2 linked regions of the Homo sapiens genome follow. The protein of the gene in region 1 interacts with the protein of each later gene in a pairwise test. Each region holds a gene or a part of one and is shown in the gene's direction. Other genes may lie near its edges.

The links.
Region 2: the proteins of SGSM3 (region 1) and CHRM3 interact in a two-hybrid assay, tested with the Homo sapiens proteins (one large-scale study listed by BioGRID and IntAct).

What each region holds. Positions count from the first base shown.
Region 1 is NC_000022.11:40,394,477-40,398,289, forward strand, and holds part of SGSM3 (small G protein signaling modulator 3), read left to right. Parts: intron 1-3,813. UniProt on the Homo sapiens protein: May play a cooperative role in NF2-mediated growth suppression of cells.
Region 2 is NC_000001.11:239,385,199-239,389,466, forward strand, and holds the start of CHRM3 (muscarinic acetylcholine receptor M3), read left to right. Parts: upstream 1-1,369; 5' UTR 1,370-2,029; intron 2,030-2,042; exon of another isoform or gene 2,043-2,139; intron 2,140-4,268.

The sequences.
Region 1 (3,813 bases):
CTCTACTAAAAATACAAAAATTAGCCGGGTGCGGTGGTGGGCACCTGTAATCCCAGCTACTTGGGAGGCTGAGGCAGGAAAATCGCTTGAACCCGGGAGGTGGAGGTTGCAGTGAGTGAGATTGTGCCACTGCACTCTAGCCTGGGTGACAGAGTAAGACTCCTGTCTCAAAAAAAAAAAAAAAAAAAAAATTCCAGTTTTTGCCATGGCTAGAAGGGCCATCTGTCAGCTAGTTCCTGCCTCCTTTTCCAACGTTATCTGCTACTTTCCCCCTCATCACTACTCTTCTAGATCTTCACAGACCTGATCGTTATTCTCATGTGAGCTGAAAAGTCATTTCCTGAGAGAGGCCTTCCCCAACCACCAATTAAAAATAACCCCTCCACTCCTACCTGCCACTTTGTAACCTATTGTTCTGTTTTCTTCATGGCATGTATTATTATTCTGAAATTATTTACATATTTATTGTCTGTTTTCTGTAACTAATAATAACTGGCATTTATTAAGCACATGCCACGTGCTGAATATTGTTACAAGTACTACATTTTCTCACTTAACCTCATAAGTAGTATAGGTATTATTTCCATTTTACAGAAGAAATTGCAGGTTCATGAAAGCAAGAACTTTGTCCATCTTGTTTTACTGCTATATCTCTAACACATGGAACAGTGTTTGGGATATAGTAGTTGCAAAAAATTTTTTTTGTTGGTTGGATAGATGAATGAAAAACTCCCAAATTGACGTTTCTACCTCTGACATCTCCCCATAAACATAGATTTATAGATGTAATCACCTACTTAACAGCTCCACTTGGATTTCTAAATAAGCATTTAAATTACCCCATAACTCTTTTTTTTTTTTTTTAGACAGGATCTCACTCTGTCGCCCAGGCTGGAGTGCAGTGGCACGATCTCAGCTCACCGCAACCTCCACCTCCCAGGCTGAACCAATTCTCCTGCTTCAGCCTCCCAAGTAGCTGGGATTATAGGTGCCTGCCACCACGCCCAGCTAATTTTTGTAATTTTAGTGGAGACGGGGTTTCACCATGTTGGCCAGGTTGGTCTCGAACTCCTGACCTCAGGTGATCTGCCCATCTCGGGCTCCCAAACTGCTGGGATTACAGGTATGAGCCACTGTGCCCAGCCCCTGCCCCGTAACTCTTAACTTCTTAACTTCCCCCCTCCCCAAACCTGTTTTGTTCCCATTTCTCTCATATTAGGAAATGGCATCATCATAAGCCCAGGAGTACAGACTGGAAACCTAGGCCTTGCCTGTGGCCACTCCCATTCTCATTCCCCACATCCAACTCTGCGGCAAGGCCTGTTGATTCTACCTCTGATTGTGTCTTGAATCTGTTGCTTCTCTTTTTCTCCACTGTCACTTCAGCCTCATTCTCCGTAATCTTTCCTCTGCACGCCACACTTGCCTGCAAGCATCCACTCTTGTCTCTCTACAAGCTATTTGCCCACGTAGCAGCCAGATTGGAGCCACGTACATTTTAGAGGTGTGCTGAAGAATAGGCGCCAAGGAGAAAAACCAGGAAGAAAACCAGTATTTGGTACCCTTACCTTGAAAAAGGTATTCATATATTTTTTCCTTTTCTAAAAAATGTTCATGTTTCTTTGAGCATTTATTGTCTGATTTTACCCCTTTTTAGCATCTATAGAAGCCACATTAATCTTTTTTTACTCCAGCCTTTCTTGGACTTTCCCGGCTTTGTGCTTCTCTATCTAGGTGAGTTTTTATCGATAGCTTCAAGTGTCCTCTTCCCCTCCTCACAGAGGAAATGCAGTCTTCAGCATCTGAGAGGCCTCTTAGAAGTATTTTTGCTCAGGCCGGGTGCGGTGGCTCACACCTGTAATCCCAGCACTTTGGGAGGCCGAGGCGGGTGGCTCACTTGAGGTCAGAAGTTTGAGACCAGCCTGGCCAACACGGCGAAACCCCAACTCTACTAAAAATACAAAAAATTAGCCAGGCGTGGTGGCACATGCCTGTGATCCCAGCTACCTGGGAGGCTGAGGCAGGAGAATCGCTTGAACCTGGGAGGTGGAGGTTGCAGTGAGCTGAGATTGCGCCACTGCACTCCAGCCTGGGCGACAGAGTGAGACTCTGTCTCAAAAAAAAAAAAAAAAAAAAAAAAGAAGTATTTTTGCTTATGTTGCTTACAGCTTTCATGTTCCATGGTAAATGTCTGTAGAAAACCATCTCTGTAGTAGTAGCAACTATGCTGTGTTGTTAAGAAAATAGGACACAGGACAGGACAGGAGGACCAGAGTGAATGGGGGGCCATATCCCTCTGATCTATATGAAGAGACCACAGGAAATGGACAGAACCTTTTCTGCCCCTCCCCATAGATGGGGGAAAACAGGGTGTATAGTAAGATCTGACCTTCTGTGCTTTTTAAACAAAATTTGCCTTATAGGAAATTGTAAGATTAGCAAACTAGGGAGTATGTACATTTAATTTTGAAAAATTCTTTCTAGAGCTCCTCAAAGGTTCCTAAATCAATCCTGTTTTTCAACTTTCTGCCTCTCAGTACTCCTGTGACAACAGGAGGGCAGCCACCCTGACGTGGCTAACTCTCTGGGCTGTTCCTGCCAACTCCCAGATGGCTGCTTTCAGGAAGGTTTCCATAGCGACCAGAGGCAGGAAAAACCTGCCCACCCAGCTTAACAATTCACATCCGGCTGGGCTTTATAGCCAGTGGGAGAAGTGGCGTGTTTATATATACTTATATACATTACATACATTTATATGTGTGTGTAGCATTAAAGAGCTCAACCCTGCAGACTCTATATCCAGAATCTGGCTGGGTGTGGTGGCTCACACCTGTAATCACAGCACTTTGGGAGGCTGAGGCAGGAGGATCACTTAAGCTCAGGAATTCAAGACCAGCCTGGGCAACATAGAGGGACCTTGTCTCTAAAAAAAAAAATATGATAAAATATATCCATAATCTGACCATTTCTCAGTGTTCCCACCATAGGAAAGTCAACATACCTTTCACCCTGACTAATCCAACAGCCTCCTCTATGTCCACCACCACCTCTGCAAGACAGCCAGAGAGGGCTCAGAGCCCTCCCCTACTTTCCCAGCTCACTGAGAATGAAGCCCAGAATCCACCACACTGTGAGGCCTCGTAGTCCCCTGCTGTGTCTTCTCCCACCATTCAGGCTGTTTCCTCCCACTCTTTCCTTCTCATTCCCCAGCCCCTCCAGCCTGCTGGCTGCCTTGCAGCTGTTTCAGCATGCCCAGTGTGCTCCCAACTTGGGGCTGCTTCTCCCTGGATCTCCTTTCCCTCAGGTAGCCATGAGCCCTCAGTTCCTTTTGGTCTTTGCTCAGGTGTCCCTAACCCATATTCTAAAGAGCTTCTCCTGAACACTTGATATAAATCCCCTCTCTTCTGATAGTCTCCACACCTTGACCTTTATTTTTCCTCACAGCATTGTAGTTATCACAATCTATTTCTGTGTTTATCATCCAATTCTGTCTTTTTTTTTTTTTTTTTTTTTTGAGATGGAGTCTCTGTCACCAGGCTGGAATGCAGTGGCGCCATCTCAACTCACTGCAACCTCTGCCTCCTGGGTTCAAGTGATTCTCCTGCCTCGGCCTCCCGAGTAGCTGGGACTACAGGCACACGCCACCACGCCCAGCTAATTTTTGTATTTTTAGTAGGACAGGGTTTCACCATGTTGGCCAGGATGGTCTCAATCTCCCGACCTCAGGTGATCCACCCACCTCGGCCTCCCAAAGTGCTGGGATTACAGGCGTGAGCCACCGGGCCCAGCCTGTCATCTGATTCTCTAATGTAA
Region 2 (4,268 bases), on another chromosome or scaffold:
CAATAAAAAGGCTACAATATTGTTATTATTATTACTATTCTAGTATCCTGGATGCAATTTACCTAAGCCTAGATATTTTAATTAATTTAAGTAGCCACATGCTTTCTCACTAGCTATTTTCCCAGCATGATCTCAATCTTTTCTACGCAAAGTTTAGTCTCTTCTCTCCTAAAGATTGTTCTACCTAGAGAAGAATATAGGTTCAGAAAGGAATTCATATACTGGTGTTTCTCTAATCTCTTAGAATTACTTAATTTTTCAAAGAGCTCTATCTTTTCCTATTTATCTTCTTGTTCCAAATAGAATTAAAATCATTTGCTGCCTTTAATATTGTTAAATATTTCATTTCATACTATGCTTCAATTTCTTGCTTTTTTCTTCTTTTTATCTTCCTCCTTCCTTCCTTTTTCTTTCTTTTCTTCTTTTTCAGTTATCATTGTTATGCTTGTCCTTTCTTGTGAGATTCCTCTGTTATCTTTCCTTATGTGCTTTTTAAACAAAACCTCGAGAGTGCCGTGGGACAGCCTCATTGGTATCTTTTCAAATTTGGTATCTCTCCACTTTTTCCTTACATAGTTAGCTGGCAGTAGTACATAATAACCTTTTCTGTCTCTCTCTCTTTCTTTCTTTCTTTCTTTCTTTCTTTCTTTCTTTCTTTCTTAGATTTTCATTCCTCTTGAGCTTTAAAAGACTGGCTAGCAATGTTATATCTTTCATTTTATTTTCTGATTTAAAAAAGTGTGTGTGTGTGTGTGTGTGTGTGTGTGTGTGTGTGTGTGTGTACGCGCGCGCGCGCGCGCGTGCACGTCAGTGTCTTCTTCATGGATGCTTGTCTTATTTTCTCCCAAGGTGTAACTGTCCAGGGAGGGAAAAGTCAAGTCGTCCTCTATTACACTGCTCTGCAGAAACAGACTCACTAAATGTCAAAAAGTAGATGCATCAGACTGTTCCTTAGAGAAAGGTTTGCCATGGAGTCGTATATTGTAACTGAGCTGAAGTTCACTCATCGATAAGTTGTGCCCAAGGAATCGAATTCCTTCCAGTCCTTCTAAGCAGTCCAGGGAAACCAATTTAAAAGCGAACACAACAAAACTAACAGACCGGCAAAATCTATCTTTGAAGCGCCGCGGGAGGCACAATTTGGGAACAGGTGAGGCCATGCTGGGTGGGTGAGGCCCCCCTCTCTCCTGCTTGGTGTTCCGCTTTCAGCCAACCCACCCCAGGAGTACCCTGGGATCTCCTCGCCCCCTGCCAGGCGGAGAACGCGGAGCCCAGCGGGCACGCGGGAATGGAGCTAGGCGCCGGCAGGGCAACTGGGCATGCTCAGAAGCCGGGCAGGTTTTGGTCTCAAGCACGCAGCCTGTGCATTACACCAGCTCTCTCAGTCCGGGGAGGAGGAGGAGCAGGAGGAACGCGAGGAGGAAGGAGAGGAGGAGCGGCCAGCAGTAGCCACGACCGCCACCACCAGGCAGAGGAAGAGTTCGTGGGGAGGAAAAGACCTCTCCTCCCCCTTGGAGCGCCTTCTCTCTGCTTTTGGAGAAAGGGAATACACGATAAAGAAGGAGACGGAAAGAAGAGAAAAAGTGAGGCGGGAGACAGAGGGAAAAGGGCGTGAACAGAAAGGGCCGGAGCGTGCAGGGGAGCACAGGGCGCGGGGGCGGCACTGCCGAGCCGGGAGCGCTGCCGCTTGGGCAGGTGCCGCGGCCGCTGCCCGGAGGCGGCATGTGACGCGCGGCCGCAGCTGCCCGCGGGCGGAGCGCTCTCAGACCCCGGAGCGCACACCGCGGGGCCATCGGTGCCATCGCGGATCTCCAGGCTCCTCATCAGTCCGCCGGGGCCGCAGCAGCGCTTCTGGGAAGACGGGCGATGAACTGAAGGGCGGCTCCGGGCAGGGGGGCACGATCTTAAGGACAGTCGCTCCCTGAACGCGGAGCCGGAGGAGACGAAGGGAAGGTGGAGCGGACGCCACCCGCGCACCGGGCAGGCGCGGAGACCGGCGTGGGACAGCCACCTGGAGCGCAGCTGCCAGGTAGGGACGGCGCCCGCCACCCAGGCGCTGGGCAGAGCGGGTGGCGGTAGCGGCTGACCTGGTTTCTTGCCTTATCTCGTTGCGAAAGGAGGAAAAAGTTTTCGGCGCGGGTAGGAGAGGTCTTGTGTTTGGAGTCCAAAGAAGGGGCTGGGTAGGGACGAGAGAGGCTGTTGATTTGGGGAAGATGGGGGCACTTGAATTCCGACAGCGCGATCTGGTGCGGAGTTGGAGTTCTGGGACTGAGGGTGGGGAACGCCCGCTGGCACTCAAGTGCCCCGAAAGGGACGGGAATCATGCGAGCGGTGGCCGGGAGAGAGTCGGGGACGTCCCACCCCGCTCTCCCTCGCTTCGATTCTCTCTTCGCCACTGCCGGATCTGAGGCTCCAAAGTGCCCGAGCATGAGGAGCTACTGGGCTCCGGGTGTGTTTGTGAGCGCACTCGTGTGTTGAGCGTTTGTCTCCCATCTCCCCATTTGGTTTCCTGTCATTTCTAAGAAGGCTAAAGCTGGCACCCGCCAACCTCGCAGTGGGGCCGCAAGTTCGGATTGCATTTCAGGGGGCGAGAAGGCAAATTTGGCACTTCGAGTAACACTTGGGCGAAGGTACCTAGCCTAGTGCGCATCTTTACTGACCCGGGGAGAGTCTGCACTCGCGAGGCAGCGGCCGCTGGACTGCACCGGTTCTCCTCTTTGGAACACTTCCTCAGCATAGCCTCCTAATAGCGAGGTTAATTTTTGCGTGTTTTTAAACGGCGGGGGCGGGCGGACAGTTGACTCCAGCAGCAGAATTCACTTGTCTACTTCGCGGTGTGCGTGCTGGAATTGAGATCCTGTTCTGCATGCTTGTGCGTGTGTCCGACTCTCCTTGCACGCATTTGGAAGTGGTAGAGGCAGCAGGGATTTGGGAACTGCATCCATATGGATAGGTTTCAAGAATGCAAACCTTCATTTGTCTGCAAGTGTTACTGGAACCTGTCCAAAGGCTGCAAGGATATGTCCCCTCGATCCCCGCCAGTGTCCGTGTTTGCAATGTGAAAGGGCGGCCCTCTTTAGGACAAAAATGTATTTATCAAAGCGATGTGTGGTTAAGAACACTGGTTATTTCACCATATGCTTTGCACAGACTTTTCCTTTCTCTCTTGCCCTCTGAGTTCCAAGACAGATAACCTGTCCCCTCCCCCCATTTTGACCTTTGTAGGTTACTATTTGAAAAATAATTTTTAACTGGGTGCAGTGATTATATAGTCCAGATAATTTCATATTGTGAGATCGTTATATCGCATGAACCATTCATCATTATTTCCTGTGTTTAAAACAATGCCCATGTATTTACTTAAGAGAGACTATGAACATATAGTTCAGAAAGGGGAAAACTAAACCTAGAGCAGATACCTGCATATAAGCGTATTGTAGTGGTAGCACGTTAATAAAAAACTAAGGTATTTCTGTTCCAAATATTGTGGGATAGACGAGGTGTTGAGTGCACCCTCTTGTTATAAGAGCTGATATCCCGAAGTATACATGTGCAAGGAACATGCCTGCTTCTTCAGTGTGCATTCCAACATGCCACAGAAATGTGGTTTACATCATAGCTTCTACCGCCGAATAGTCTATCTTTAGATTTTGTTTACATGGTTTGTCTCAATTAGCTTAATACATAATTAGCTATTGTTGGGCTAGAAAGCACGTTATTTTTGTAGTGGTTTCCATATGGAAATATAACGTTCGCTTAATTACTAATTTAAAAATAATGACATTGCCGGTCGGATTTAGAATGTTTCTCTAGGTTGGGGGGTATTATGAGATCGAATGTAGCACGAAAATAGCAATGTCGAAATATTGTTTTTTAAATAACGTTGCGTCATTAATCGAATGAACATGACAGTTGAAAAAGAAAATGAGATAAAAAGTAGACTTTGAAAAATCTTTATAAATTTTCTGTGTGGAAAATTATTGTAAGGGAAAAATGTAATTTGGGAAAAGGAGCAAATGTGGAATTGGTCAAGTTTTAAAGAAAGAACAAGTGTTATAATGAGTAGTTCTGTATTAAACCTACATTTAAGCTTATTTAGGAAAGTTTGCTTTAAAATTTAGAGAAATCTATGATGAATATTCAGTACCCTACTTTTATTCTGGGGTAGGGGGAAGTAAAATGTCACTTCAAAAGTATTATTTACTTCTGAAGATTATTTAGGCATGTGTAAAAGTTCTTTAGAGTGTACCTTCTCATTTTTTCCTTAT